7 linked regions of the Homo sapiens genome follow. The protein of the gene in region 3 purifies or fractionates together with the protein of the main gene of each other region. This does not show direct contact. Each region holds a gene or a part of one and is shown on either strand. Other genes may lie near its edges. The genes, in order: USP1, RPS6KB1, PHLPP2, PRKCB, RDX, DMWD and EZR.

Evidence for each region.
Region 1: the proteins of PHLPP2 (region 3) and USP1 purify together in Homo sapiens (affinity purification with mass spectrometry; 3 studies listed by BioGRID and IntAct, with this or other methods). This does not show direct contact.
Region 2: the proteins of PHLPP2 (region 3) and RPS6KB1 purify together in Homo sapiens (co-immunoprecipitation; one study listed by IntAct). This does not show direct contact.
Region 4: the proteins of PHLPP2 (region 3) and PRKCB purify together in Homo sapiens (co-immunoprecipitation; one study listed by IntAct). This does not show direct contact.
Region 5: the proteins of PHLPP2 (region 3) and RDX purify together in Homo sapiens (affinity purification with mass spectrometry; one large-scale study listed by BioGRID and IntAct). This does not show direct contact.
Region 6: the proteins of PHLPP2 (region 3) and DMWD purify together in Homo sapiens (affinity purification with mass spectrometry; one large-scale study listed by BioGRID and IntAct). This does not show direct contact.
Region 7: the proteins of PHLPP2 (region 3) and EZR purify together in Homo sapiens (affinity purification with mass spectrometry; one large-scale study listed by BioGRID and IntAct). This does not show direct contact.

What each region holds. Positions count from the first base shown.
Region 1 is NC_000001.11:62,446,204-62,449,676, forward strand, and holds part of USP1 (ubiquitin carboxyl-terminal hydrolase 1), read left to right. Parts: intron 1-1,137; coding exon 1,138-1,308; intron 1,309-2,261; coding exon 2,262-2,463; intron 2,464-3,473. UniProt on the Homo sapiens protein: Negative regulator of DNA damage repair which specifically deubiquitinates monoubiquitinated FANCD2. Also involved in PCNA-mediated translesion synthesis (TLS) by deubiquitinating monoubiquitinated PCNA.
Region 2 is NC_000017.11:59,934,084-59,938,428, reverse strand, and holds part of RPS6KB1 (ribosomal protein S6 kinase beta-1), read right to left. Parts: intron 4,260-4,345; coding exon 4,169-4,259; intron 3,996-4,168; coding exon 3,905-3,995; exon of another isoform or gene 3,901-3,904; intron 3,237-3,900; coding exon 3,129-3,236; intron 2,215-3,128; coding exon 2,152-2,214; intron 1,966-2,151; coding exon 1,888-1,965; intron 852-1,887; coding exon of another isoform or gene 803-851; exon of another isoform or gene 655-802; intron 1-654. UniProt on the Homo sapiens protein: Serine/threonine-protein kinase that acts downstream of mTOR signaling in response to growth factors and nutrients to promote cell proliferation, cell growth and cell cycle progression.
Region 3 is NC_000016.10:71,654,879-71,659,223, forward strand, and holds part of PHLPP2 (PH domain leucine-rich repeat-containing protein phosphatase 2), read right to left. Parts: intron 3,938-4,345; coding exon 3,775-3,937; intron 3,486-3,774; coding exon 3,355-3,485; intron 1,804-3,354; coding exon 1,693-1,803; intron 557-1,692; coding exon 362-556; intron 1-361. UniProt on the Homo sapiens protein: Protein phosphatase involved in regulation of Akt and PKC signaling.
Region 4 is NC_000016.10:24,090,602-24,094,946, reverse strand, and holds part of PRKCB (protein kinase C beta type), read right to left. Parts: intron 2,157-4,345; coding exon 2,000-2,156; intron 785-1,999; coding exon 650-784; intron 1-649. UniProt on the Homo sapiens protein: Calcium-activated, phospholipid- and diacylglycerol (DAG)-dependent serine/threonine-protein kinase involved in various cellular processes such as regulation of the B-cell receptor (BCR) signalosome, oxidative stress-induced apoptosis, androgen receptor-dependent transcription regulation, insulin signaling and endothelial cells proliferation.
Region 5 is NC_000011.10:110,233,802-110,238,146, forward strand, and holds part of RDX (radixin), read right to left. Parts: intron 4,146-4,345; exon of another isoform or gene 3,904-4,145; coding exon of another isoform or gene 3,852-3,903; coding exon 3,691-3,851; intron 2,391-3,690; coding exon 2,298-2,390; intron 1-2,297. UniProt on the Homo sapiens protein: Probably plays a crucial role in the binding of the barbed end of actin filaments to the plasma membrane.
Region 6 is NC_000019.10:45,785,948-45,790,292, forward strand, and holds part of DMWD (dystrophia myotonica WD repeat-containing protein), read right to left. Parts: intron 925-4,345; coding exon 1-924. UniProt on the Homo sapiens protein: Regulator of the deubiquitinating USP12/DMWD/WDR48 complex. Functions as a cofactor that promotes USP12 enzymatic activity.
Region 7 is NC_000006.12:158,808,885-158,813,229, forward strand, and holds part of EZR (ezrin), read right to left. Parts: intron 1-4,345. UniProt on the Homo sapiens protein: Probably involved in connections of major cytoskeletal structures to the plasma membrane. In epithelial cells, required for the formation of microvilli and membrane ruffles on the apical pole. Along with PLEKHG6, required for normal macropinocytosis.

The sequences.
Region 1 (3,473 bases), on a different chromosome or scaffold from region 3:
AACTAGATGCTAGAGCGTACTACACAACTAGCCTATATGGTATAGACCAGGGTATCTAATCTTTTGGCTTCCTTGGGCCACACTGGAAGAAGTGTCTTGGGCCACACCACACAGAATACACTAATGATAGCTGATGAGCCAAAAAAAAAAAAATCAAAAAAGTCTCATAATGTTTTAAGAAAGTTTATGAATTTGTTACGGGCTACAGGCAAGCTTTGCATGGCCTATTGCTCCTAGGCAACAAACCTGTATAGCATATAACTACTGAATACTGTAGGCAACTGTAGCACAATGGTATTTGTGTATCTAAGACGTATCTAAGCATAGATATGTAAACATAGGTACAGTAAAAATAATCATAGACTACTGTCATATGCGGTCCATTGTTAAATAATTGAAACGTTGGTAGGTGGTGCATAACTGTAAGTTACACGATACTTGAACTAGATTTTTACCTAGTTTTGTCCAGATCTACAGATATCAGGGAAAATGTGTAATATTGATATAGTGAATAGTTTTACCAAAAATGTCATCCTTATTCTGGGTTTATTCTATGGGGAGGTGTCTGTAGGAAGGGAGTTACAATACAACTGACTTTTTTTTATTTTTTATTTTTTTTATTTTTTTGGAGACAGAGTTTTGCTCTTGTTGCCCAGGCTAGAGTGCAATGGCATGATCTTGGCTCACTGCAACCTCCACCTCCCGGGTTCAAGCGATCCTCCTGCCTCAGCCTCCCGAGTAGCTGTGATTACAGGCATGCACCACCACACCCGGCTAATTTTGTATTTTTACTGGAGACAGGGTTTCTCCATGTTGGTCAGGCTGGTCTTGAACTCCGACCTCAGGTGATCTGCCCGCCTCAGCCTCCCAAAGTCTTGGGATTACAGGCTTAAGCCACTGTGCCCGGCCTACAACTGACTTCTTTTAAAGACAGTAATTTCATAGTCAGTTTTATCTTTACAGGGACCTTAAATTTCATTAATAGGGTACCTCTAATAAGCTAATAATGCTAATAAGCTGATCTATGAAAATGGAACTGTTATTCATGATATACTTTATTTAAATGGAAAATTGGTTATTTGGACTATAATGAGAAACTAATCTGTATAGACTTACATTTTCCTATTTTCATTTTAGGTGAAGAACAAATTGGTTTTGAGCTAGTGGAGAAATTATTTCAAGGTCAGCTGGTATTAAGGACGCGTTGCTTGGAATGTGAAAGTTTAACAGAAAGAAGAGAAGATTTTCAAGACATCAGTGTGCCAGTACAAGAAGATGAGCTTTCCAAAGTAGAGGAGAGTTCTGAAAGTAAGCAAAATTGGAGTCTTGTGTGGACCATGATGGAATATTTATAATTCTTTAACAACACAAAGTTTAATAGTAGCTGGTGTAATTAGGGAGGGGAAAAAAGCTAGCTTTTAGTGTCTAATGTAACCTTTCTGCTTATCTGGCTTCACTTATAAATGGTTAGCATTTGGGAAATTGTGACATCTTGATTTTGATGTAGAGTGTGTTAGAATGGAAAACTGAAATGCTTTAATAAGTGTACTTTTGGGAACCTGAGTCTTTCAGAGCTACTGAGGGTTTTTTTTAATTTTTTTGAGATGGAGTCTTGCTCGGTTGCCCAGGCTGGAGTGCAGTGGCGTGATCTCGGCTCACTGCAAGCTCCGCCTTCTGGGTTCATGCCATTCTCCTGCCTCAGCCTCCTGAGTAGCTGGGACTGCAGGTGCCCACCACCACGCCCGGCTAATTTTTTGTATTTTTAGTAGAGACGGGGTTTCACCATGTTAGCCAGGATGGTCTCAATCTCCTGACCTCGTGATCCGCCCGCCTTGGCCTCCCAAAGTGCTGGGATTACAGGCGTGAGCCACCGCGCCTGGCCTACTGAGGTTGTTTTTAACACAATAATTGAGCCACTGTTGTGTCTAGAGCATACCACAAAATATGGAAATACCATAGGAAATAATCATGAGACAGGTTTACCTATCACATATTGAAAGTTGGCAATTAAATGTAAACAGACTAGGCTTATTTTGTTTTTGCTGTCTATCATATTTTTTGGCCGATCAAATATATTTAAAAGGTATGTATACTGTTGAGGATGCACTTATGAAAGTAGTTTCTGAAAGTAAAAATCTCTTTAGTTATTTAGGAATGGGTCGGTCAATTGAAATTAAATGCTAATTTTGAACCTGAAACTTTGTGGTTTATTTTTTGAATGCCTGAGAGAAGTATTTGAGTGAAAGGATTCTCTTTTTTAGTTTCTCCAGAGCCAAAAACAGAAATGAAGACCCTGAGATGGGCAATTTCACAATTTGCTTCAGTAGAAAGGATTGTAGGAGAAGATAAATATTTCTGTGAAAACTGCCATCATTATACTGAAGCTGAACGAAGTCTTTTGTTTGACAAAATGCCTGAAGTTATAACTATTCATTTGAAGTGCTTTGCTGCTAGTGGTTTGGAGTAAGTATTGTAAATAAGAACTATATGAAGAAAATGAGCTGCTGTAGAAGATAAGTCTTGTTCAAAATGCTGTAATAGTAGGAATATAAAGTACTGAAATGAAGTAGATTGTAAAGATTGCTTCAGTAAAGTTTTGTTCTTATTAACAGTTTCCCTGTAAAAATGAAACAACTTAAATCCTTTTGATATGAATACATATTCTATTAAGTATGATTTCTTCTCCTTTTTTTTTTGAAACAGGGTCTCATTCCAGTTGTCCAGGCTGGAGTGTAGTGGCACAGCCTCAGCTCACTGCAGTCTTGACCTCCCAGGCTCAGGTGGTTCTCCCACCTCAGCCTTCTGAGTAGCTGGGACTACAGGTGCATGCCACCATGCCCAGCTAATTTTTTGTATTTTTAGTAGAGACAGGATTTCACCATGTTGCCCAGTCTGATCTTGAACTTCTGGACTCAAGCAATCCACCTGCCTTAGCCTCACAAAGTGCTGGGATTACAGGCGTGAGCCACCATGCCCGGCCAGTTTCTTTATTCATCTTTTCATATTCATTCCCTCTTAGATGTTAGTAGCAGAATTCAGTAGAACTGACTAAAGCAGGGAACAAATTTTGTATACATCAAGATTTTTTTGAAGGGGCGGGAAAGGCTAAATTCTTCCTAGTTTTAAGGTAAGCCAGGAAATCAAACTAGTCTTTCAACAGTTTGAAAAAAAATGCTGATTGTTTTGGATAGTCTGTTTTTTTCTGACATGTGTAATGTCATTGTATGTGTGACTCCTTTGTACATTAGTTGCTTGTTTGAAATTACCACGAGGGCTTCACAGTAGCTCTCTCACACTTGATTATGTCAAAAGATAACATATAGCCCCTTATTCAGTGGACCTTCCCTTTGCTAATAGTATAAAATACTATTTTATTTACTTTCCCAAATTTTGGTAGAGAAAAACTTCACACTAAAAATGACTAAAATGGGCTGGGCGTGGGTGGCTCACACCTGTAATCCTAGCACTTTGGG
Region 2 (4,345 bases), on a different chromosome or scaffold from region 3:
ATCCTTACAAACAGGAGAAAAAAAAAATGGAAAAACAACAACAACAAAAAAAATTAGGTGGGGCAACACAGGGAGACCTCATCTCTAGAAAAAATTTAAAAATTAGCTGGATGTGGTGATGCATCCCTGTGGCCCCAGCTATACGGGAGGAGCCCTTGAGCCTGGGAGGTTGAGGCTGCCATGAGCCACTATCATGCCACTGCACTCCAGCCTGGGCAACAGAGAAAGACCCTATCCCCCCCCCAAAAAAAAAAAAAAGAAAGAAAAGAAAAAGGAAAAAAAAAAAAAAACAACTAAGGAAACTGTCAACTTCTGAGGTGTGATGATGGGATGGCAGTTATGTTTAAACAAGATGACCTAATCATTTTTTAAGCTGGGCAGTAGGTATATGACAGTTAACTTCCTTACAATTGTTTGTTGTTTTTTAAAGTGGGGACATTATGCTCCATGACCAAAAAATAATCACCATCATCATCCTCCTCCTTCTCCAACTACATCCTAAGGAATGGAAAAAGAAACTGTATTTTCTCAGATTCTGAGGTGGGAGAAGGACAATAACTAACACACTAACTGATTTACTCACAAACATATTGTTATGGGTTGAATCGTGTGCCTTACCCACCCCCAAAAAATTTCGTACATTGAAATTCTAACCTCTAGTTCCTCAGAATGTGACCTTATTTGGAAAGGGTTATTGCAGATGTAATTAGTGAAGATGAGGTCCTACTGGAGTAGAGAGGAACCCTAATCCAATATGCCTGGTATCCTTATAAAAAGGGGAAATTTGGCCACAGATATGCACACAGGTAGAACACCATGTGAACATGAAGGCAGAGATCCGGGTGATGCACCTACAAGCCAAAGAATGACAAAGATTACCAGCAAACCACCAGAAGCCAGGGGAGAGGCATGGAACATACAGTTTCTCACAGTAGTCAAAGAAACCAACTCTAACAATGTGATCTAGAACTTCTAGTCTCCAGATCTATGAGATAATAAATTTCTGTTGTCTAAGCCACCCGGTTTGTGGTACTTTGTTGCAGCAAGCCTAGCAAACGAATGCACACATATTCTATACTTTGAAGAAAAAATTCCCAGAGAATCATATTTAAAATGGTTAAATTAAGCAAAATAAAACAAACCAAAAAAAGGAAAGTCCCAACTACCTGAAATATTTGTCTTAGGTAACTGACTTAAAAATAGCTAATACAGTCAATTGCCACTGGGTTTAGTTCTTTACAAGATAGTACAAAAATAAAAGATGCTTGGCTGGGTGCAGAAGCTCACACCTGTAATCCCAGCACTTTGAGAGGCTGAGGTGGGTGGATCACTTGAGCCCAGGAGTTCAAGACCAGTCTGGGTGACATGGCAAAACCCTATTTCTATAAAAAATACAAAAAAATTAGCTAGGCATGGTGACACGTGTCTGTAGTCGTAGCTATTTGGGAAGCTGAGGTGGGAGAATCACCTGAGCCTGGGGAGGTCAAGGCTGCATTGAACTGTGATCGTGCTGCTGCACTCCATCCTGGGTGACAGAGTGAGACCCCATCTCAAAATAAAATAAAATAAAGATGCTGGAGAGGATAGACCAGAGATCTTTGAACTGCTAATAAAAATAATGTTTCTGTCTGCTCTGAGATTTTTCTTATTCTAAAAAAATATCAAGCGATCCTCCTGCCTCAGCCTTGCAAGTAGCTGGGACTTACAGGCACAAGCCGCCACACCCAGCTAACTTTTAAATGTTTTGTAGATATGGAGTCTTGTTATGTTGCCCATGCTGGTCTTGAACTCCTGGCCTCAAACAATCCTCCCACCTTGGCCCTTTAAAGTTTGGGGATTACAGGCGTGAGCCACTGCACCCAATTATACACTTTCATGTATACTTACCAACAGAGGTTTAAAGGGGGGCTCCACCTTTCGAGCCAGAAGTTCTTCCCAGTTAATGTGTCTAAAGAATGGATGAGCCTAGGAAAAAAAAAGCAGGAAGAAAAGTTGAGGGGACTAGACTTTGCTGGATTGATAAATTAATCACCTTTTTGAAGTTACAAGTCACAAAATAAGCTAAACTTATAAGCAACTACATATAACCCTCAGAAATACATAAAACTAGCATTATCTTCCCCACAAAACACCAAAGATGCCAATCCCTACTTGAACTTCTCCAGCGTCCCCAGGACCAGCTCCCAGACGAGAAGCAGCATTTCTTTTCAGCAGCTTTAAAGAGGAAAAAAAGCTTGGATAAAGAACCTTAGTCAAACTGATTTTTTTTTTTCCTTTTTAGACTGTGCTTGTCTACTTTGGCTTGAGAAAATATAGTTTATTGGCCAGGCACAGTGGCTCATGCCTGTAATCCCAGCACTTTGGGAGGCTGAGGCAGGTGGATCACCTGAGGTTGGGAGTTCGAGGTTGGCCAACATGGTGAAACCCCTTCTCTACTAAAAATACAAAAATTAGCCTGGCGTGGTGGTGAACACCTGTAATCCCAGCTACTAGGGAGACTGAGGCAGGAGAATCACTTGAACCTGGGAGGTGGAGGTTGCAGTGAGAGCCAAGATCATGCCATTGCACTCCAGCCTGGACGACAGAGCAAGACTCCATCTCAGAAAAAAAAGAAAAGAAAAGAAAAGAAAATATAGTTTACTAATTACTACTTAATATTGTTTAAGGGTCTGTAATCCCAGCACTTAGCACTTTGGGAGGCCAGGGCAGGTGGATCACCTGAGGTCAGGAGTTCCAGACCAGACTGACCAACACGGTGAAACCCTGTCTCTACTAAAAATACAAAAATTAGCCGGGCGTGGTGGCGGGTGCCTGTAATCCCAGCTACTTGAGAGGCTGAGGCGGAAGAATCGCTTGAACCTGGGAGACTGAGGTTGCAGTGAGCCAAGATCGCACCACTGCACTCTAGCCTGGGTGACAGGGCAAGACCCTGTCTCAAAAAAAAAAAATTTAAAAAAAGAATATGAAAAGAAAGTCTTTAAACAAATCTGTACTTCGCCTTCAAAAATTGAAGACTTTTTTGTTCAATATTTATATATGACTCTTTATTCAAAATATACATTAAATTCTATCTAGTTAAATCCTAGTCATTGAATCTTGTAGTGTCAGTGACCATTTAAGAACCTTACCTTTTTAAGCAGATCTCTGGCTTCTTGTGTGAGGTAGGGAGGCAAATTGAGTTTACATTTGAGGATTTTGTCAATTGTTTTCTTTCTATTCTCCCCAGTGAATGGGGGCTAAGAGTAGAAGACAAGTGAAAAATATTAGCAGGGAGAGAAAAATATTAGCATATAAGAAACAAATTTTGAATAATATTATCCATTTCCTAAATTAGTTATACATGGAGATCAGAAATGTATGCTGTGAAATGGGCTAACTGCTAAAGACCTTTATTTTGTTTTACAGACAGGGTCTCAACTATGTTGTCAAGGCTAGATTCTATTAATAATCCTTAGCTCAAATGATCCTCCCACCTCAGCCTCCTGAGTAGCTTAGGCTACAGGCATGCACCACTGTGGCCGGCAGACGTGCAGTTTTTAAGCAACAGGACAGAGGAAGTAGCAGTGTCCTGGAAGGAAGCCTGTGTTTCCACCATTAACTTTCTGTGTGATAAGTGAGCTATGTGATTTTATGCTTCAATTTCTCCATTTATAAAATAAGGGCATTATCTATTCAACATCTATTTCACAGGCCTGCCATGACATAGATCATTTAAAAGAAAATGTTTCGGAAAGTATGGGATCCCATATAATCATACAGCATTATTAGTGTTAAACTGCTAATAACAAATCTTTGGGCTTTGAAAACTCCACTGGTAACATGTTCAGAAAGCACAGGACAGGTCTCTTGCTATAGTGACTCAGCACAGACCAATAATACATGCAGCTTTTAACTGTGCACCTACTGCTCCAGTCAGCATGTCATACATTAATGCTCCCAAACTCCACCAATCCACAGCACGATTGTGGCCACTTCTCATCAAGATTTCAGGGGCCCTACAATGAGGAAAATAATATGCTTAAAAATTCACCCATTTGCATATCATCTGAATTAGAATTTTAAAAACAATATACAGAGTCAATGAGGGTACAGAAAACAGATACTATTCCTTAAAACAGGTAAAATTAGCTATTACCCCCAAACCAATTATGTTTAACATGTAGCTCACATGTATTCTATTGTTCCACAAAATGTGTGTGTGACTGTTCCATCATGAATAGATTCTTTGCATAGTCCAAAGTCTGTTAGTTTCACATGACCTACAATGAAAGATTACAGCATGATTATTCTCCGAATTATAAGTATGTGCAGTGTTTGAACATGTCACATAATACTTTAATCTATC
Region 3 (4,345 bases):
TTGGTTAACTGTTTTGTAGGTCACTGACTGCTTGGACAATCTTATGAAAGCTGACCACCTTCCTCCTCAAAATGTACAACCACATATATATACACACACAACATTTTGCACATAAATTCTGGGCTTCCCAGATCCTCAGCAGCCTTTGGATTCAACAGAGAAAACAGATGACCCCCACAGGCTTTTGAAAGAGCCGAAGTCCCCGCACTCCATGCTCATATAGAGAATGATCATAGAAGACAACAACGTGAGTTCTCTCCTTGATCCTGTATCCATAATTTAGACCCTGACCTTCTGGTTTAGAAAAATATATTTTCCAAAAGTAGAACTGAGTTAGGGATTTTTCAACCCACCTGCTTACCTGTGAGATACCAAGAAGGTGTTAGCCATGAAAACTGTGTCATTAGTTGACTGCTGTACCTCTTCTAAAAGCACATCTGCCATCGTACACTGCAGCAGGCGCGGGAGCTCCTCATTTCGGTCTCCATCAAACATGCCATACACAGCTCCCACCCCCTCTGCAAAGCTATCCATAGCAAGTGCTGAGACACACAGCCTATAATAGAAACATGAAAACAGAAAACAGAAAAGTTACTGGTAAAATATTATTCTCCAGGGAGCATTCTTTTTTTTTTTTTTTTTGAGAGGGAGTCTTGCACTGTCACCCAGGCTGGAGTGCAGTGGCATGATCTTGCCTCACTGCAAGCTCCACCTCCCAGGTTCACGCCATTCTCCTGCCTCAGCCTCCCGAGAAGCTGGGACTACAGGTGCCTGCCACCACGCTGGGCTAATTTTTTTGTATTTTTAGTAGAGATGTTAGCCAGGATGGTCTTGATCTCCTGACCTCATGATCCGCCCACCTTGGCCTCCCAAAGTCCTGGGATTACAGGTGTGAGCCACCGCGCCTGGCCAGGAGCATTCTTTTAAAAAGTAAGTATTAATTAAAGGTGGCAAAGACTACTAGCAAATCGTAATCTACACGTAAGAAAAGTCCCTAGACATGATAATTAAGCAACATCTGAAAGAGCTAATGTCCTAAGGAAAGGGGAAACAGTCGCATTCATGGGCAGTACATATTAGCTTTGCAATGCTGCCAAAGGCTGGTAAGATAAAGCACTTTCTCTTAGTAGTGACTAAGGATTAGCTTTGTCAAGGCCTATCAGTCAAAGACCACCAGAGCACACCTATGGTTGAAAAAGTTGAGTTTATTACCCCTTATAGCAAATGAGAGTGCACCCCATGGAACCCCGGGGTATACAGGTAAGTCTTGCTGAAAAGAACCCAGTATAGGGTTTGGACTTTGGTTTGGTCACTTTGGGGAGGGTCTAAGGAAGAGGATCATACTAGACTGGGTGTCATCAGAAAGTGAGGCCATTCTATTGCTGGGTATAAAACTTATCTATAGGGAAGGAAAATTAGCAGAAGGATAAAGCTGTAACTGGTAAAGAAAGTAGCATCTACCCATCTTAGCCATGAAAGGGGGTGTTTGGTATTCTGTTGACTACACATTAGTATTGTTTTTGTCTTAAAACGTTATCATGATCCCAAAGGGATCTTATCTGACGCTGATGTTCTATGATTTGTCTGTGTACAACAGAACAACATGGCCTAGCTATTATGAGCATCAGGCCAGTTCTCAGATGCCAGGGGCTGCCTTTTTTCTTTCTCAGTCTCCATGGCCAATATACTCACTTATTTCTCTGCCCTGCCATCTCAGCCAGTCCATGGCTCCAGAAGGTTGACGTAACTGTAGAATCTGTGGTTGGCAAAGGTTTCTGATCAATTTTCAGGGTTGTGATATGGCTGTGGGAGGTGAAGGAAGATTAAACCATATATTCTTCTGTATTTTACAAAAACTATCCCAACAATAGTATTCTTTTTTTTTTTTTGAGATGGAGTCTCCCTCTTGTCACCCAGGCTGGAGTGCAGTGGTGTGACCTCAGCTCACTGCAACTGCTGCCTCCCGGTTCAAGCAATTCTCCTGCCTCAGCCTCCTAAGCAGCTGAGATTACAGGTGTATGCCACCATGCCCGGCTAATTTTTGTATTTCTTTATTTTATTCTATTTTATTTATTTATTTTTTTGAGACGATCTCCCTCTGTTGCCCAGGCTGGAGTGCAGTGGCGCAATCTCGGCTCACTGCAACCTTCGCTTCCTGAGTTCAAACGATTCTCCTGCCTCAACCTCCCAAGTAGCTGGGATTACAGGCACCTGCCGTAACAACCAGCTAATTTCTGTATTTTTAGTAGAGACGGGGTTTCACCATGTTGGCCAGGCTGGTCTCGAACTCCTGACCTCAAGTGATCCGCCCGCCTCGGCCTCCCAAAGTGCTGGGATTACAGGTGTGAGCCACCGCTCCCGGCTAATTTTTGTATTTTTAATAGGGATGGAGTTTTGTCATGTTGACCAGGCTGGTCTCAAACTCCTGACCTCAGGTGATCCACCCACCTTGGCCCCTCAAAGTGCTGGAATTACAGGCGTGAGCCACCACGCCCGGCCAACAATAATATTATCTTTTTTTTTTTCTCTTTTTTGAGAAGGAGTCTCGCTGTGTCGCCCAGGCTGGAGTGCAGTGGCGTGATCTCTGCTCATTACAAGCTCCGCCTCCCGGGTTCACGCCATTCTCCTGCCTCAGCCTCCTGAGTAGCTGGGACTACAGGCGCCCGCCACCTCGCCCGGCTAATTTTTTGTATTTTTAGTAGAGACGGGGTTTCACCATGCTAGCCAGGATGGTCTCGATCTCCTGACCTCGTGATCCACCCACCTTGGCCTCCCAAAGTGCTGGGATTACAGGCGTGAGCCACCGCACACGGCCAATAATATTATCTTTTAATAAAATAATCTATGGACTGACTAAGATTCATTTCCAGAGAGACTGATGAAAGTAGTATGCTGAACTACTGGCAAAGAAGGAGGGGAGAGAAAGGAAAGGGGTAGGAGGATCAAAGGGGTAGGAGTTTCAATAAAAAACTAAGCACAACAAAGATTTCTATGTTTTAGCCAACCATCTATTTATGTTAAGTATTTTGATACAATGAAGTCTTGGTACAATGGATGAACTTGTATTGTCTCTTAGATATTATATAATCTGTGCCACCTAAAACATCTATGCCTGTTGTGAAAATATTCAGTATGTTGGGGGGTAGTAGCCATGGAGTAGTCCTAATATAAACAGGTTGACTACTGGATAGAACATCTATTCATAACTTAATCAAAGAAGAGAACCTAGGGGCTTTATAGCCTAACTTCATTCTGTTCTTTTAATTAATCAAGATCTCCACAGTACTAAGGAAGACCTACACATGGCTGGTGGGCTAAGAGCACATAGAGATTCCATTTCAAATTTTTTCCTACCTAAATATGTCCAGTGTCTTGTGTTCCAGAACCAGATTTGTATTTCCAGTCAGGTCAAGGTCTTGTAATGTAGCAGGCAAAGCCTCTGGAATCAGGATTTCTGTCAAGTCGTTGCAACTTAGGTCTACAAACTAAGAAAAAATTGAGAAATCAAAAGAAAATACATCACAGAGACTTAGTTCTTTACTCCCAAGTGTCCAATCTCTTACTATATCCCCAAAGAGGAACTTAATTTCTTCCCAGGAATCCATTACATAAATTCTGGTCCCAAACTGGAGCACATAAGAAGACAATAATATTTTTCCTTATAAGAATAATCTCATTCACACTCCTTTCTTCTTCTTTATAAAAGGAAAATAATGTCATTCACTCTCCTGCCATTTCCCCCAATAAGGACATCATTCCAGCACACAGAAGTACCTGGATCTGAGGCAACTGCAGTATTTCTGGGAAAATGCTGATGTTGTTGGAGTGTGCAACAAGGGTGTGCAGCCTTTTACAGTTTGCTATGGTTGTGGGAATGGTTTTAAGCTTGTTGCCACTTAGGTTCAGTTCCTCCAATTGCTCCAATTTATTTAGTTTGCTGAAAAAGAAACAACAGAATACTATAATGCACCAAGACTGAGCAGCTGCCAAGGAAGTGCTATTCTACAGCAGCCACAGAGTACAGAAGGCCGACACGGTCCACTGCCAGATGACTGGTGAGAAATGAAACCGATACCAGGAATACCAGGAAAGGCAATGGCTCAAGAAGATAACTACTCCTGCTATAACTAAGCCTGATCTGCCTCAGTGTGTTTCAAGGGCTGTTGGATCTTGTGGGCAGGAACATCTTCCTGTTACCTAATGTACAAAAAGTGGCTAGAAAAGGAGTGGCCTCAAGTTGGGGGATTAGTCTTGATGCTTGCTTTACCACTAACTAGCGGCAAAATACTAAGTAAGTCAATGTCAGCAGTCTTTAATACCCTCAGCTGTAAAAAATGAAAAATGA
Region 4 (4,345 bases), about 48 Mb from region 3:
TCCCTCCTTCCCTTCCTCCCTTCCTTCCTTCCTGCTTTCCGTCTTTCTTTCTTCTTTCTTTCTTCTTCCTTTCCCTTTCCCTTTTTCTTCCTTTCCTTCCTTCCTTCCTTCCTTCCTTCCTTCCTTCCTTCCTTCCTCCCTCCCTTCCTTCATTCCTTCTCTCTCTCTCTCTTTCTTTTTTATCACTCTGTCACCCAGGCTGGAGTGCAGTGGCTCAATCTCTGACCACCTTGCTCACTGCAACCTCTGCCTCCAGGGTTCAAGTGATCCTCCCATCTCAGCCTCCTGAGTAGCTGGAACTACAGGCACACACCACCATGCCCAGCTAATTTTTCATGTTTTTGATAGAGATGGGGTTTCACCATGTTGCCCAGACTGGTCTTAAACTCCTGAGCTCAAGTGATCTACCTGCCTCGGCCTCCCAGAGTGCTGGGATGACAGGTGTCAGACACGAGGCCTGGCCTCTTTCTTTTTTGTTTTTAGTACAAGGACCAAACAAAACATATCTGCAAGGCAGATCCAATCAACCAGACTTCACTTTGGGACTCTGTTTTAGTATTTCAATTTTTGGAGAAAAAGGAAAACATACTTGACCCCGCGTTTGATGGAGCAAGCTGTATGGTAGCTTTCAAGGCAAAATCTTACTTACCAGCCATCAACACTGGCTTTCTGAAGTTCAGAAATCCCAAAGGACAAAGATCCCATGAAGTCATTCCTGCTGGTCAAATCCCAATCCCAAATCTCTACTGACAGTCTTCTGTCTTTGTCCGATTCTTTCAGCTGACTGCATAGAGAAAAAGAAAAGACATCAGTGGAGGTTGTAGTAATTTCTCAAGCAGAATAAATGTACAAGAGGACAAGACCTGGAGGTAGAAAGTTTTAAAGATTACAAGCTGCTGAAAGAAACATATTCAGTTTCCATCCCAGGCTAGCTCTCCAGGGAGTGAGAGCTTTTTCTGTTTGACAGCCTGTGGCTTAAACAGGCAGAGGTCTTAGACTGGCTATGACAAGAACAGTTCTAACTACTTTTGTTATCTTATGTCTTAATAGGGTTCAGGATATTCAGGAATTCCTATTGCCTATAAGAAATACAGATATCAATTGCATAATTGGGTGTGTACATGTGTATATCTGCACACAGGTGGGTTGAGAATGAGGCTGAGGAAATGCATGGAGAAAAATCCTGGGGAAATTGTCTGTTCTGAGACATGTCCTTGACTGAGGCTGAGAAGGGGCCCAGCTTTGCCCTGAGAGAGGGAAGAGGAGACAGGACAAGGAACTGTGCTTCTAGCTGGTGGCTAAAAAAGTATGACCGCTAAAGTCAGACTGCCAGAAGCTGAATCCCACTCCACCCCATATTTGCTATGGGACTTTGGGCATACTCTTTAACCTCTATAAGCCCTATTGCTACATTGGGAATAAAATGAGCCGATGAAGTCGGATCGCTTAACCCAGTGTTTGTCACACATCATATATGCTCAGTGAATTGGCTGTTATAACCAACTCCTGATGCCTAGATGTACAAGAAAGAGACTCCCAGATTCTTGGAGCCCTGGCCAGGGAAGACCCTCAAGGGAGGCTGGTGGAGATGTCCCAGAAGGCTGCAGGCCAAGCATCATCCATAAACCCAACTCTAGAGAGGCTGTCACCACACCCTGTAGGTTATGTTCCCCTATTTGCTGAGCCCCATCATTTCTCCCACAACTTGCCTTCACTTAGCAACACATCACACCATTTCCTGTCCTACCCACTCCCCCACACCACAGGCATTCTCATCTCTATTAAAAAAATAGCTCTAATTTTTTTTCTTGGCTCACAATACAAAATTGCAGATGGAAAAGAAGGGAGGGAAAGATAGGAGTGAGGGATGGAGAAGACAGAAAAGGAGGGAGGTAGGGAAGGAAGGAAACAGGAGCTAAGGGAGGAGGAACTCCCTGATTTCAGGTGGCACATAACCCAACCTCCACCACCCATGCTCACTGCAGTCATTTCCACTTACAATCTAAATGTCTCATTCCACTCAGGGTTGAGGGAGCATTTGATGGTTTTGGTCTTCTGTTTGCTCTCACTTTTGGGATCGGGAATCAGTTTCAGTTTTACGTAGGGATCTGACAGGCCATTGGGGTCCATAGGTACAAGGTTTTTAGCATCTCTTACTGAAAAAGAAAAAGCAGTTTTTGCATTAATACTGTCCAACATGTTTAAGCACCAAGCAGTGACAGCTGCAGAACTTGTGGAAGGTTCTTTGGCATCACACTTGTTTAGTGAGAAATTTAATTTTATTAACATCCATAGCTGAAGCAGTGCACAAAATGAGATGGGCTGATAAGATGTCAACTCTGGTCTGTGTTGGTTAAAAATGGATTTCTGACTTTTACACTGCTCTTCCCATACCAAGATTAACTGTAAGTTTTCTAAGCTTATTTTCCACAAAGCCCACAGGAAAGGCTGGCTTCTTTCATTTAGCATAACGTTTTCAAAGTTCACCACATTATAGCATGTATCAGCACTTCATTTTTTTGCATGACTGAATAATATTCCATTGTATAGATATCCCACATTTTGTTTATCCATTCAGCAGTTGATGCATAGTTGGGTTGTTTCCACTTTTTGGCTGTTGTGAATACTGCTGCTATGAACATTTGTGTACCCCAACACAAAAGGTCACATATTGTATGATTCCATTTACATGAAACATCCCAAACAGGTAAATCCATAGAGACAGAAAGTAGACTACTATTAATAGTTGCCAGAGGCTGGAGGGAAAGGGAAATGGGGAGTGACTGCTTAATGAGTACAGGGTTTCTTTTAGAGGTGATGAAAATTTCTGAGAACTAGATAGAGATGATGGTTGTCCAACACTGTGAATATTCTATAAATGTCACTGAATTGTACGTTTAAAAACAGTTAATGGTTAATTTTATGTTACGTTAATTTTACCTCCATTCAAAAAGAAAAAGCTAAAGAAAGGAAGAATTACCCTCTAAACCAAGGTACACCTATTATCCATGTATCACCCATAACCAGCACCCAGACAGCCCATAGAGAGAAGGCTGGAACAATGTCAGCAGCATTAGAGCTCAGCTCCACCCTGACTCCAGAACACCCAGGTAAAGAGGCTATAAGGCTAACATGGTGAAACCCTGTCTCTACTAACAATACAAAAAAATTAGCCAGGCATGGTGGCAGGTGCCTGTGGTCCCACCTACTTGGGAGGCCCAGGCAGGAGAATGGCATGAACCCAGGAGGCAGAGCTTGCAGTGAGCCAAGATCATGCCACTGCACTCCAGCCTGGGCGACAGAGTGAGACTCCGTCAAAAAAAAAAGATGAACTTACAGGAGAAAAGGAGGCAGGGAATCAGCAGTGAAGATGCAACTGGCTATAGAAAGGATGAGGGAGACTAAATCATCAGCTTGGAGAAACAGGAAGTAGTTAATTAGGAATCAATTCAGAAACCAGTAATGCAGGTAGTCAATGGAAGCAGACTAGAAAATGAGAATTGCACAGCTCTTAAGGATACAATGTCAATCATCTCACTTACAGTAGAACAATCCACAGTAATACATTCAATCCAAATCGACTCTAACTATCTGCTAAAAGGTGAATACATAATGACTCCTATCAGGAATGCAAAGATGGTTCAATCTTAGGAAATCTATTTTCAATATATTCATCATATTTATAGATCAAAGAAGAAAACCATAAGATCATTGTAGTTATCTAGAAACAGCAGAGAATTTTAACAGGATAAAGGCTATCTGAAATAACAGCACCATGGTTCATGATAAATGCAATTCCATTAAAGTAAGGAATAAGACAAAGATATCCATTACCATAGCCATTATTTAATACTTTTTTTTCTCGTGTTCCATAAGTGCAGTAAGAAATAAAGAGTTACCCTCTAAACCAAGATGCACCTATTATCCATGTATCACCCATAACCTGCACCCAGACAGCCCATAGGGAAAAGGCTGGAAAAATATCCACAGCATAAATAAAACCAGAAATTTTGTAAACTCAAGATAACAAGAAAAACAGATTAGAAGAAAGAATATTGGAAAGTAGGAGAGAAAGCACCCCCTCATTTCCTGCAACCTTTGCTCACCCCCAATCATAGTTATCTCCTACCATGGTCACGCTCTGGAGCCTATTATCCCAGAAATTATACCACTTTCTCAATCTCAGTTTCAAGTACCCTACTATCTTACACCAATTTCTATTTTTCCAATTCATTAGTTCTATTATTCTACTGCAATAAATCTTCCCCTATTCGTCAGTCCATTCTCCACCAATCAGTCCCTCGAACCCAACACATTCTCTTGATCTCCCTATTCCCTCTTGCTT
Region 5 (4,345 bases), on a different chromosome or scaffold from region 3:
AGAAATAGATATTCATATAATGCCTAAGAATCTCACACCCAATAGATTTTATTTGAGCCACAAGGGGAAAATGTAACCGAATAACGGAGGAATGAGACTGTCGTTACTCAAATCCAATGATCACTAAAAAATACTAATGGTGAGTTAACTAGATATTAAGTGTCTTCTGATATGATACAACCTGAAATATCTAACATCACCAATTATTTGGGTGATCATATTATCTTGGTTTACCTGGAAAAGTCCTGTTACACTGTTGTCCTGGTGTAATTATGAACAATACCCCCTTTTTCTCAAAAGTACTCCAGTTTAGATGTTCAATTATATGGAAGTCTCACCTTTGATGCACTGTAGTCAAAACATTTAATTTGAATTCCCCAGGTTCTAGATCTAACTTCTGGTTCAAAGGAAATACTGGAGTTAAAGGATAAGGTCAATGACACAAGGAAGTAACTAAACAAATATAGGAGGTGAGACATTCTGTAGGTCCCTTCAATAAATCAAAATAATAAAAAGAGAAACTGCCCTCCATTAAAAGAGACTTACAGCAAATACAGACAATGCAAAGTCCTCTGAACACTTGTCTGGCAAATTAGCTATGAGACTTTTTGGGAAATTCTTAATATAGTCTAATATTCTGAGATGAAAATTGACTAAAATGAAATAGTACATACAGTAAGATTTCATGTTGAATATATAAACAGGAAGTATCCTGGAAGAATATGTACTAAGGTTTTGCAGTATTTCCCCTAGTTTATGGGAATACAATTGTCTTTTGTGTGCATTTTCTAATTTTCTATAATTCACAGACTTGATATCTGTAATATGCTAATTTTTTAAAGTTTATGTGTCTCTAAATTTCATAAATCATCCCTAAAAGGGATCTAAAAAATTCTAATAAACAAGTAGAGTAACTGGGAAATTAACAGTAGCATTCCTTTTGTAGTTTTATTTATATATAACTAATTTTCAATACATATAAAATTACCCAATGAAATTTAAACTGCTACAAAGATTTACTTAAGAGTGCAAGAAAACTGTTTTCTGTATAAGTACATTTTATTGTAGAAAAATCATCTTCTAAAACTAAATATCATCTTTGGGGGTAAAAAAATTATCTTTTCAGTTAAGAGTTAATGTTGTTTGAATTAAACTCTCATTATCTTATATTCCCCCACTCTCCAACCAAAGCCTGATTTTACAATTGTGTGCTACTTTAGACAACAGTGGTTTCATCTACTTAGGACTCATATTAGAAATCTCGGTGTCAGCTGCACACAGTGGCTTACACCTACAATCCCAGCACTTTGGGGGCTGAGATGGGAGGGCTGCTTGAGGCCAGCAGTTCAAGACCAACCTGGGTTACACAGCAAGACCTCCATTCTCAACAAAAATAAAAATGATGGTGCATGCCTGTAGTCTCGGCTACTGCAGAGGCTGAGGTGGGAGGATCCCTTGAGCCCAGGAGTTCAAAGCTGCAATGAATTATGATTGTGCCACTGCACTCCAGCCTGGGACACAGAGTAAGACCATGTCTCTAAAAAAATAAAAATAATTCAACTTCATATCCAATCACTGGTTCCCATGCCTTTTTGTGACCACAAAATGTCTCTTATATCTTCCCATTCCTCTTTATTCTCATTTTCACATCCTCAGTTTGGGTCTTTATCTCTTAAGTATCCACTATCCCAATCCTTTCTTCACACTGATCACTACATGGTTTTTATAAAATCATATCTGATCATGTTACAATCCTGTTTTGAAATCTTCTAAGCCCCAAGTCAATCGATACTCCCACTGCCTTGCTGTAGCAGAGCATTTATTTAAAGCCTTTCACAATTCCCTATTATCAAACTTGAGGGCCACATCTCCTAACATTTCTGAACAACACTAAGCCTCGGCTGCTTATTGGTTATCCTCAAATCTATTATATACATTCATACTTCCTATACTCATTCAGTTCCCTCTGTCTAGAATGACTACTTCTTCAGTCTCTAACTATTCCCAATTTTACATCCCAATCTTTTGTACCCCCAAAATTTAATTCATTATTCAAGACCCAGCTTAAATGTATATGGGTCTCCCGACAACTCTCTGGTCCCCCAGAAATTAATCACCTCTTCTGTGTTCCCAAAGTACTTGGTTTATATCTGTAGATAGATATTTACAATACACATAACACGAGTATCTTTCCCACTCTAAATTATGACAGTATCTTACACTTATCACTACAAAGTCAGCATAATCCTGGGTATAAAAGCTATTCAATAAAAGCTAGTAAATGAATAAATGATTACTTTGTGTTGCCACTCAGTAGCTTCCTCTTCCTTTTTCTTCTTGGCTTCCTCTAGAAGTGCAATCTTGGCAGTGAATTCAGCAAGTTCTGCTGCCTAAAGTAAACAATATAATTCCAAAATTAAAATAACATATTTTGAATAATCTTATAAGTCAACAAAGTTTTAATGCACATGCTTAGGCTGTTTATGTTTTTCTTAGCCTTCCATTTAAAAAAATACAGTATTTCTTAAGATCTTAAATAGCTTATTTACAATAAGTCCTTTAGGTAATGAGCTAAGGAGACAAAATTAAAAAATTACTATTATTCTACAGACTAGTTAATCCTGCTTTCAGTAGCAGGAACTTAAAATGTGTAACTTAAAAGCTTTTTTAAAAAATTTCCATCAATAAACTATTTGTTAAAGTCCACAAAAGATAAAATATTTATCTAATGCTATATACTTTAAATGGCACTTTGTCAAATCATCTCATTTAATACCCCAATAATCCTAACAGGTAGTATCATTAACAGGTAGTATCATTCCTCCTTTTTTTTTTTTCAGACAGAGTCTCGTTCTGTCACCCAGGCTGGAGCCCAGTGGCACAATCTCAGCTCACCGCAACCTCCGCCTGCCAGGTTCAAGCAATACTCCTGCTTCAGCCTCCCGAGTAGCTGGGATTACAGGCGTGCACCACTGTGCCTGGCTAATTTTGTATTTTTAGTAGAGACAGGGTTTCGCCATGTTGGTCAGGGTGGTCTTGAACTCCTGACCTCAGGTGATCCACCTGCCTCGGCCTCCCAAAATGCTGGGATTACAGGCGTGAGCCACTGTGCCCGGCCATCATTCCTCTTTTCAAAGGGAGGGAACTGAGGCTCAGAAAGACCCAAAGACACATACATAGCAAGTACATGTGTGAACTAATATTTAAATCCAGGATCTTTTAAGTGACACGCTTACATCTAATTATTTGCAAGTCCACTAAATAAAAAAACCCAACCAATTATGGCCTCATAGGAACTATAACATATTATATATCTATAATATATTATATAACTATAACATATATCTATATTATATAACTATAACATATTAATTTATCTAAAGCAAAAGACGCCAACTGACTTATTACCGAACCTGTCCAATGTCAAAGTGAATCAGAACCTTTTGCTGACAGTAGACTCCATTTACAAATAATCTATAGAAAAATGCCTTATTCTTTTGTATTTTTAGGTTTTTGTTTAGGCAGAAATAAATTTTCTAGGTTTTTGTCTACATTTTGTTATTAAGTTACATGTTATCTTTGGCTTGCTCTCCAGAAAGCACAAAATGGTTGCTTTTCTTTTTTTCTTTTTTAGAGGGTTCACTCTATGCTTTTATTTAAACTTTTTTCTCTAAGAAGACAGTTCCTTACTAGCTGCTCCTGATTCTTCATCTGGTCGGCAGCTTGTTTTGCTATGGCAGACTTTGCCTCTTCAGCAGCTCGACGCTCCTTTTCAAGTCGTTCTGCTTCTTCTTTTGCTCGTTTTCGTTCTTGATCCAGTTCTAGAGCTTTTCGAGTCTGTTCTTCTAGTTCTATGAAATATGTGTATTCCCCCCAACAGTGATTAATTCCAATCATTCTCATTATCAAAAGAAGCTAAAATAGTAGCAAGAAATCAAATCTGTTCAATTTCTAAAAGTTAGCACACATGTAAATACATATATACCTCTTTGTTTTCTTGAGACAGGGTCTCGCTCTGTTGCCCAGGCTGAAGTGCAGAAGCTCACTGCAGCCTCGAACTCATGGGCTCGAGCAATCCTCCCGCCTCAGCCTCCCAAGTAGCTAGGACTACAGGCGCTATACCTCGTTTCCAACTTGGCAAAAGCCTAATAATTTTTAAAGAGAAATGAAAATCTTCTGCAATTCAAGTTATGTAAAAAGGCTACAAGCACGTAACTATTTTATTTTTAAAAAATAATCTCTCCATCTGAAGTTTTGACCTCAGTAAACAAATTGCCATGTTTCAGAAATCTATAATACATTTCAAAACTTCCATTAAGGTTTTACTTATCTAAACTAATAAGTA
Region 6 (4,345 bases), on a different chromosome or scaffold from region 3:
TGTGCCAGGCTCTGCCGCCACACCCGGGCCGCCCGCCTTGCCCCCGCCAGCTGGGTGCGGGAGACTGTTGGAGCGGGACAGCGAGCGAGGCAGGGGGCCTGGGCCAGGCTCGCCACCCCTCGAGCTGCTGGCGGCCGGTGGCGTGGTGCCAGGTGTGCCAGGGAGGGTGCGGGTGCGGGCCAGGGGGGGGTGCGGGTAGAGCACGTCTTCAGTGAGGTCCCACAGGCAGAACTGCGTGTCCTGGCCCGCCGAGCCAAAGCGGTAAGTAATGGAGCCAGCCTTGGGCAGTGGAGAGAGCGGGGCGCCCCCGGCCGAGCCTGTGCCCGCAGCCTCGGGCTCCTCCTCCTCCTCTTCGCCGCTCCGCTCCCCATCAGCACCGGCTGCTGTCGCCGCCTCCTCTGCCCTTGTGGTGTAGGGGTCAAAGGCCACAGCGTTGACCCAGGACTTGTGGCCATGGCCTCGAGCCACCACGCGGCCCTCGGTGAAGGACCACACGGTGACCAGGTCATCTTCGCCACCCGTCACCACGTAGCGGCCGTCAGGGCTCCAGCACACACACAGCAGGCCCCCAAAGTAGCTCTTCATGAGCCCACGCAGGAGCATGGAGTCGAAGTGGAAGACGCGCAGGCAGCCATCCTGGCTCACACAGGCCAGGTGCCGGCCATCGGGCGAGAAGGCGAACTCGTTGAGGGGCCCCTCACCCACCGCCCACTTGGCCAGCGGGTTGCGGGGTGCCTTGCTCTTGGCAGCATAGACAGAGAAGCCCTCGCCCTGCTTCAGCAGGCTGTACTGGGGCGGGGCCGAGGCGCAGGGGTGGCTGACGTTGTACAGGTACAGGTGGCCACTGGCGTGTGATGCCAGGAACAGGCTCTCCGACTCAGGCAGCCACTTCAGATATGTCACCTTGGTCTTGTCGATCAACCGCTGCCAGGGGAGACAGTGTGGGGTTGGGAGAAGGCAGTAAAACCCAGGCAGAACTTCTCCCCGACCCAAAGTCCCCAAGAAGGCCGTTGGACATGGCCCCGCTCACACAGCAGGTGCCACACCAGGCCCAGGTCCTCCTCGGAGAGAAGCTCCCAAACTGGGGAAGACAGATGGACACCAGGTCATGGAAACATGGGGAAACAGAGGCTGCTGCAAGGTGGCCACAGGGTGCTCCAAGGAGCCTCGATGTCCCATCTTTGGCGAGGGGACAGTCCTGCTTGCCACAGAATTGTCCTGTATCTCGGGGTCCTCAACCTCCGGGCCATGGAACAGTAGTGGTCCGTGGCCTGTTAGGAACCAGGCCATGCAGCAGGAGGTGAGTGGTGGGCGAGCAGGCATTACAGCCTGAGCCCAGCCTCCTACCGGAGCAGCGCACCATTCAATCCTCGTAAGAGTGCGAACCCCACCATGAACTATGCATGCGAGGGATCTAGGTGTGCGCTCCTTATTAGAATCTAACACCTGATGATCAGAGGCAGAACGGTTTCATCCCAAAACCATCCCCCCAACAGTCTGTGGAAAAACTGTCTTCCATAAGACCAGTCCCTGGTGCCAAAATGGTTGGGGACCACTGTATCTGTCTAACCCTCCCCCGATCTTTACTACGTCAGGCTTCAAGTAGGAAATTTCTTCACGGAAAGGCAGCTCCCCAAAGGAAGCGATCTTTGTTTGGTTCACTATTCTTTAAAGCAGTGCACACAGGAGGCAGCTTGAAGGTAATTCCTGGACAAATGAGTGACAACCCCCCATCCCGCTAGGTGCTTAGACAAAAAACCTCGGCATCTGCCCCTCTTTTCCTCATCCAATCCTTCCACAAATCCTGTGGGCTCGACCTTCAAAATACACCCAGAAGTGGCTGGGCGTGGTGGCTCACGCCTGTAATCCCAGCACTTTGGGAGGCTGAGGCAGGCGGATCACAAAGTCAGGAGTTCCAGACCAGCCTAGCCAATATGGTGAAATACAAGTAGAGATACAAAATCTCTACTAAAAATACAAAAATTAGCCAGGCATGGTGGCGGGCGCCTATAGTCCCAGCTACTCAGGAGGCTGAGGCAGAATTGCTTGAACCCGGGAGGCGGAGGTTGCAGTGAGGGGAGATCATGCCACTGTACTCCAGCCTGGGCGACAGAGCGAGACTCCACCTCAAAATAAAAAAAAAAGAAAAAATACACCCAGAATCTGACCTCCTCTCACCATCCCATTCAACCACCCCAAGCCTGCAATGCTGTGTGACTGGCCTCAGGCTCCAATGCCTGGGCCTGTCTGTCCTCTGCAGCCGCCACAGCGATGCTCTGTGAAGTATCAGCCAGCACCTGGCACTGTCCTGCTCTGAACACTTCGCAGCCTCTCTCAAGCAGGGTTCCAGAGCCTGAGGCCCTAATGCTCTCAGGCAGCCAGTGTATGCAACTAAGGAGCTGCTCTCCCAGGATGAGGTGCCTCCCATCCCTGGGAGAACTGAACAAATAATCACTCTAGTCACTTCTGCCTTCCAGGGCTCAGGTGAGCCCCAATGAGAAAGGCTCCTCCACAGGCTTCCAACTAAGAGTAAGGCAAAATCTCTCCGTGACCTTCCAGACTCTCCATGAGCCAGCCCCTCCGTTATTTCTTGGAACTCATCTACCATCTTCTCTCCCTCAGTAACTGCACTGGCCACACGGCTTCTGTGCAATCCTGCATTTGTCCTAGCTGGCCCCGATACTCAGAATGTCCTTCTTGGCTGGGTGTGATGGCTCACGCCTATAATCCCAGCGCTTTGGGAGGCCAAAGCAGGAGAATAGCTTGAGCCCAGGAGTTCGAGACCAGCTTGGGCAACACAAAGAGACCCCGCCTCTACAAAAAATACAAAAGTTAGCCAGTTGTGGTGGTGCATGCATGTAGTCCCAGCTACTCAGGAGGCTGATATGGGAGGACTGCTTGAGCCTGGGAGGCGGAGGTTGCAGTGAACGAAGATCGTACCACTGCACTCCAGCATGGACGACAGAGTGAGACCCTATCTCAGGAAAAAAAAAAAAAAAAATGCCCTTCCCCAGGCAACTCTTCTCACCTGCCTCCTTCAGGTCTTTATTTCAGTATCACCTCTTAGTGAGGGCTTTCCTGACCACCCTACTAAACTCTCCAAGCTTCCCTCAGCCCCTTCCCCACTGCTTCTTCTAAACAGGCCTTAATCACCTGCTGACACACGAAGACTTAACTTGATTAACTGTCTGTCTCCCCAGCTAGACTGAAAGCTCCAAAAGGGCAGGGCCTCCTGTCCAGGGCCCTGAGATGTGATATCCCTAGTGCTGGGAACGGTGCCTGGCACAGAACGGATGCTCAAAAACTATTTGTGAATGGATGAGCTAATGAATTTTTAATCCACTGACTGTTCCGTTCACTCCCTTCAGCCATTCACTCATTCTGAGAATATTTATGGAACACCTCCTCTGGACCAGAGAGAATGAGACAGAAGCCAAGAGCAGTCCCTGCCCGCGGATAAGGTCGTTTACTGGTATCTCCTCGTAGGCCAAGTTGGCCCAGGACTGAGCAATCTCCATGTATGATTCTACAACAGCGGTCCTGCAAGGTAGGAACTGGAATCCCATTTTGCAGAGGAGGAGAAGTGAGGCTCAGAGAATGGTCACCTTCCCAAAGTCACATGATGAGTAAATGGTGCAGCAGGGCTTTGAATCCAAAGCCTCCAGAGCCCAGAACTCAAAGAGCAAGGGCATCAACTAAGTCCCGACTTATTTACTAGCCTCAATTCTCTAATCTGCAAAATGGGCAGCACACTTCTGTATCCACTGGTTGATGAAAACTCAAAGAATGGCCGGGCGCGGTGGCTCATGCCTGTAATCCCAGCACTTCGGGAGGCCGAGGTGGGCGGATCACAAGGTCAGGTGTTTGAGACCAGCCTGGCCAACATGGTGAAACCCCATCTCTACCAAAAATACAAAAATTGGCCGGGTGTGGTGGCTCACGCCTTTAATTCCAGCACTTTGGGAGGCCGAGGCGGGCAGATCACGAGGTCAGGAGATCGAGACTATCCTGACTAACACGGTGAAATCCCGTCTCTACTAAAAATACAAAAAAATTAGCTGGGCGTGGTGCTGGGCGCCTGTAGTCCCAGCTGCTGGGGAGGCTGAGACAGAAGAATGGCGTGAACCCGGGAGGCAGAGGTTGCAGTGAGCCGAGATCGCGCCACTGCACTCCAGCCTGGGCGACAGAGCGAGACTCCATCTCAAAAAAAAAAATTAGCCAGGTATGATAGTGCGCACCTGTAGTCCCAGCTACTCAGGAGGCTGAGGCAGGAGAATTGCTTGAACCTGGGAGGCGGAGGTTGCAGTGACCCGAGATTGTACCACTGCACTCCAGCCTGGGCGAC
Region 7 (4,345 bases), on a different chromosome or scaffold from region 3:
TGAGAGACTGAGGCAGGAGGATGGCTTGAGGCCAGGTGTTTGAGACCAGCCTGCACAAAACAGTGTGAAACTTCATCTCTATAGAAATAAAAATAAAAAGATTAGTCAGGTGTGGTAGTGAGCGCCTGCGGTCCCCCAGGAGTTCAAGGCTGTGGTGAGCTATGATTGTACCACTGCACTCGTGCTTGAGCAACAGAGCAAGACCGCATCTCAAAAACACAAAAACAACACCTATCCTCTTGCTTTGCTGCCAGAAAAGACAAAAAGCACAAATAAACAAGCACCTGACAGCGTTATAGGTGGAGACCGAGTTCTATGAGTGCAGTAAAGTGGGGCACGGCACAGAGATGGAGCTGTACTTTAGACAGGGTGTTCTGAATCAGGAATGGACTTACAAAACATCTGCAGTCAGAAATTCACATACAGACTATAGTAGATCAAAAGCTCATTTTAAACTATCAATGAGGAAAAAAGCAATTCATTTACATAACATTCTCTTTCCAACTCAAACATCAGGTACAAATTGCTTTCTTTTAGCATATGCCAGAAATCTGTCATTACACAATAGCTTAGCAAGTGTGACACAAGATACTGCCACTTTCTCTACACAAAGACCCACCCAAACACCAGCTTTGTTTAAAACATTACCTCAGCACCACGATGCCTCTCCTCAGTAGTTTCTGAGTCCATGCTCAGAGTCCATGATGTGCTCAACATTGGCTAACAAAACACATTCTGTTCTTTGAGAACAATTTTTTAAAAACTGGAACCAATGGGGTGGATCTGCTTCCAAATATTAGTCCAGCCATAAAATATATACAAGGTTAGAATAAATGCTTAACAATAATTATTTTTATGCTAGAAGCAGGAGTTGGTCCATTTGTTTCTCTAAAGAGCCAGCCAGTAAGTATTTTAGGCTTTGAGGGTCTTACTTGGAGTCCGTTGCATATTGTTGTTTTTAAAATCCTTCAAAAATATAAAAACCATTTTTAGCTGGGAGACCAAATAAAAACAGGCCACAGCCAGACTCGGCCCTAAGATGATAGTTTACCTACCCCATCCTAAAGTAAAAACAATTATTTACAGTATCTGAAATGACAACTGTCCACACAGGCAGTTTAAAATTGATCTCTCAGGCAAAAATGGAAAACAAAATTAGGTTGCAGAAGTGACTTCTAACTTAAAAATATGAGCAAAATCTGATATACTGACTACTAGAGTTTGATCCTCAGGTGATACTGGTTCCTCTCCTATCAATAAAAGGTGGGTCATGGTGAGATATTTTTTATTTTGCTTTTAAGGTTTTGTTTTCAAGTATATTAGATTAAAAGGATAACTTAATGAAGTTTTACATTTCCTTTGAAACAGCATTACTGTTTGCCTGTAAGTGTTAAGAACGGGTTAATGAATAAAGGAAAACAGAACTGACCACTGCTGACTGGGAAGCCCACATCCCTCCACACTTACCCAAAGGATCTTACCAGCCGGGAGGCCCTCCCTGGTCTCCAGGGCACACTTCTCTTCTGTGAAGACCTCTATCATGCACTACACTGCATTGTAATTGCTTACATATCTGCTTTCACTAGGAGACTGAGAACTCCTTAAAGGCAAAACCAATCTTATTTTTATTGTCCCTGCACCAAGCACATAATGGGATATAATAGCGCTTCAAAACATGAAGGTGGTACCCATGTGACTGATAAGGGAATTCCGACTAGAACACACAGAGAGAGGATGGACATGAGACAAAATCAGAGTCCTCCCTTTTACTAAGATAACCCAAACTGTTCATATTGCTTTTTCCTTGAGAAGACCAATGGACAAACTTTACCCGTTTATAGGAACCCAGAGTTTTTACCTAACAGGGTTAAGTTTGAAAAACATTTGCGGGGTAGGGAAACACAAAAGAAACACATAAAGCTTACAGCATCTTAAGATGAGTTGTTTGGATTTCACTGATAAAAACTTTGTCTCCGTTTATCTTATGTAACATTCTTTCCACTTAAAAACTAACTCCCATTTTACGGCTGACGAAATTTAGGTTCACAGATGCTAAATGGCTTCCCCAAATACAGGTAAGCAGTAAATTAGCTATGAAATTCTCTTTATAGCTCTTTGTGGTTTCATTTTGAAAAAAATTATGTGTATTAACTATATCAAGCATTTCAGTCAAAAGTCTCTAAGTCACATTATAGCACAAGGGTTTTGTTTGGTTCTGAAAACTACCCAAGTCTGGAAAAATCTTTTTATGTCAACAGGCATGGATGGTAAATACATCAGAAGGAAAATAATGCAAACTTTGGTCTTTTCAACACACATTTACTGCTGAAATTAAAAACTAATTGGAGTACTTGGGGAGTCTCAAGGTAGTTACTACTGAAATGAAATAAGGGATAATTCAAAATGCATTCACTGACTTTGAAAGCAGACTGAATTTCACTGCTTCAGAATAGAGCTGAAACATCTAACTACCATTAGAAAGCAGACTGAATTTCACTGCTTCAGAATAGAGCTGAAACATCTAACTACCATTAGAAAGCAGGTATATCAAACCACCCTAAGAATCTCCAAATTGTCAAAGAGATATAAAAGTTTAAGTTAAAAAAATTAAGAAAAAAATTATAGTTCACTAAATGATACTGTTTTCCTTTCCCAAACTATAATTATTCAACATTTGTTAGAAATCACATTATCAGCCAGGCATGGTGGCTCACACCTATAATCTCAACATTTTGGAAGGCCAAGGTAGGAGGATAGCTTGAGCTCAGGAATTTGAGACTAGCCGCCTGGGCCACACAGTGAGATCTTGTTTCACAAAAAAATAAAAAATTAGCTGGGTGTGGTAGTGTGTGCCTGTGGTCCCAGTTACCCAGGAGGCTGAGGTGGGAAGATCACTTGAGCCAAGGGTGGGGGCCGGGGCACTGAGGCTGCAGTGAGCTGTGACTGTGCCACTGCACTCCAGCCTGGGTGACAGAGTGAGACCCTGTTTCCAAAAAAAAAAAATTCACATTATTTCATTAACAAAAGAGGCCAGTGTGGAAGGAATAAAAGAGGAACAAGGAATGGGATCTCTTACTTCCCTACCATTTATAGGGAAGGTCTAGCCTCTTTTTTTCTCTTTGAAAACAAAGAGCCAAAATGTGAGAGACCACTGGGCACTGCCAAATGAAGCTGTTACTGGACTCCCTGCAGAGAGAAACTCAAGTCAGAAGAATATTATGTTGAATGGCCTGCCCAAGTATAGGTAAGCAGTAAATTAGCTATGAAATTCTTGTTTTTATGGCTCTTTTTCACAGAGTCATCCTAGCCCCTATTCGAGTCCCAAATACCAATAACAGCACTCCTGGCATTTCAGCCGGACTGTAAGGCGGCTGGGCATCAAGTGACTGCTTTCACCCAAATGGGTGCTCTGAAATCACACTGGGCTTGATTGGGGTGCAGGAGAAAGGAATATATAATAACTGCCCTTTTCCTATTGAATCAGCAGTACCATCTGGAGAGCTTATTTAAAACATAAGCACCCAGCCTGCACCTCACCCTAGAGATGGAAGTCATTAGTTCTTCAAGGGACCCAGGAATCAACAGTCTCCAGACAATTGTGTACACAAAATTTTGAGAACACTGCACTAAATTAACCCTTCCTCTTAACTTTAGGTATGTACGGTGTGTACATATACTAGGGAAAACAAAAAGCTACTGAATTATTTGGATTTAAAAATAACGTAGTTTAAGGAGTCTGGTCCTTTAATATTTTGGGGGGCAGTGGATGTAGTAATGAAAGAAGGCAAGGACTTTTTTCATCAACGATTGTCACAAACTTATTAACATGTAACAACAAATCCAGACTCCCCACCTTCCCCCACACCTGGTCCTTCTCCAGGATTACTTACCTCAGCGATGGCACCACCACACATCCACTTGCGCAAGCCAGAAACGAGAAGTCAGCCTCGACACCACCCTTGGCCCTGCATATCCAACCCATCACCAGGCACTATCAATTCTACCTCCCAAAGAACTCTCAAATGCATCCACTTCTGTTCCCACCACCACCACCTTGGTCCAAGCTATGAGCTCCCTCAATGGTCTACCATAACTACCCTTGCTGTCTCCTGCCTCCTGTGATTTTCCTATTACAGATCACAGTCAACTTTTCAAAAGGCAAATCTGATCATGTCACCTCCCAGTCAAAACCCCAAGTTAAACTAAAAAACACCCAAGAATGGCTTACAAGGCATGGCCTGACCTGTCTTCCTCTCTAGCCACATTGGGCTTCATGTGAAACCCCAAACTCACACTACTTCCTCCCACCACAGGGCCTTTGCACACGTTGTTACCTCTGCCCAGG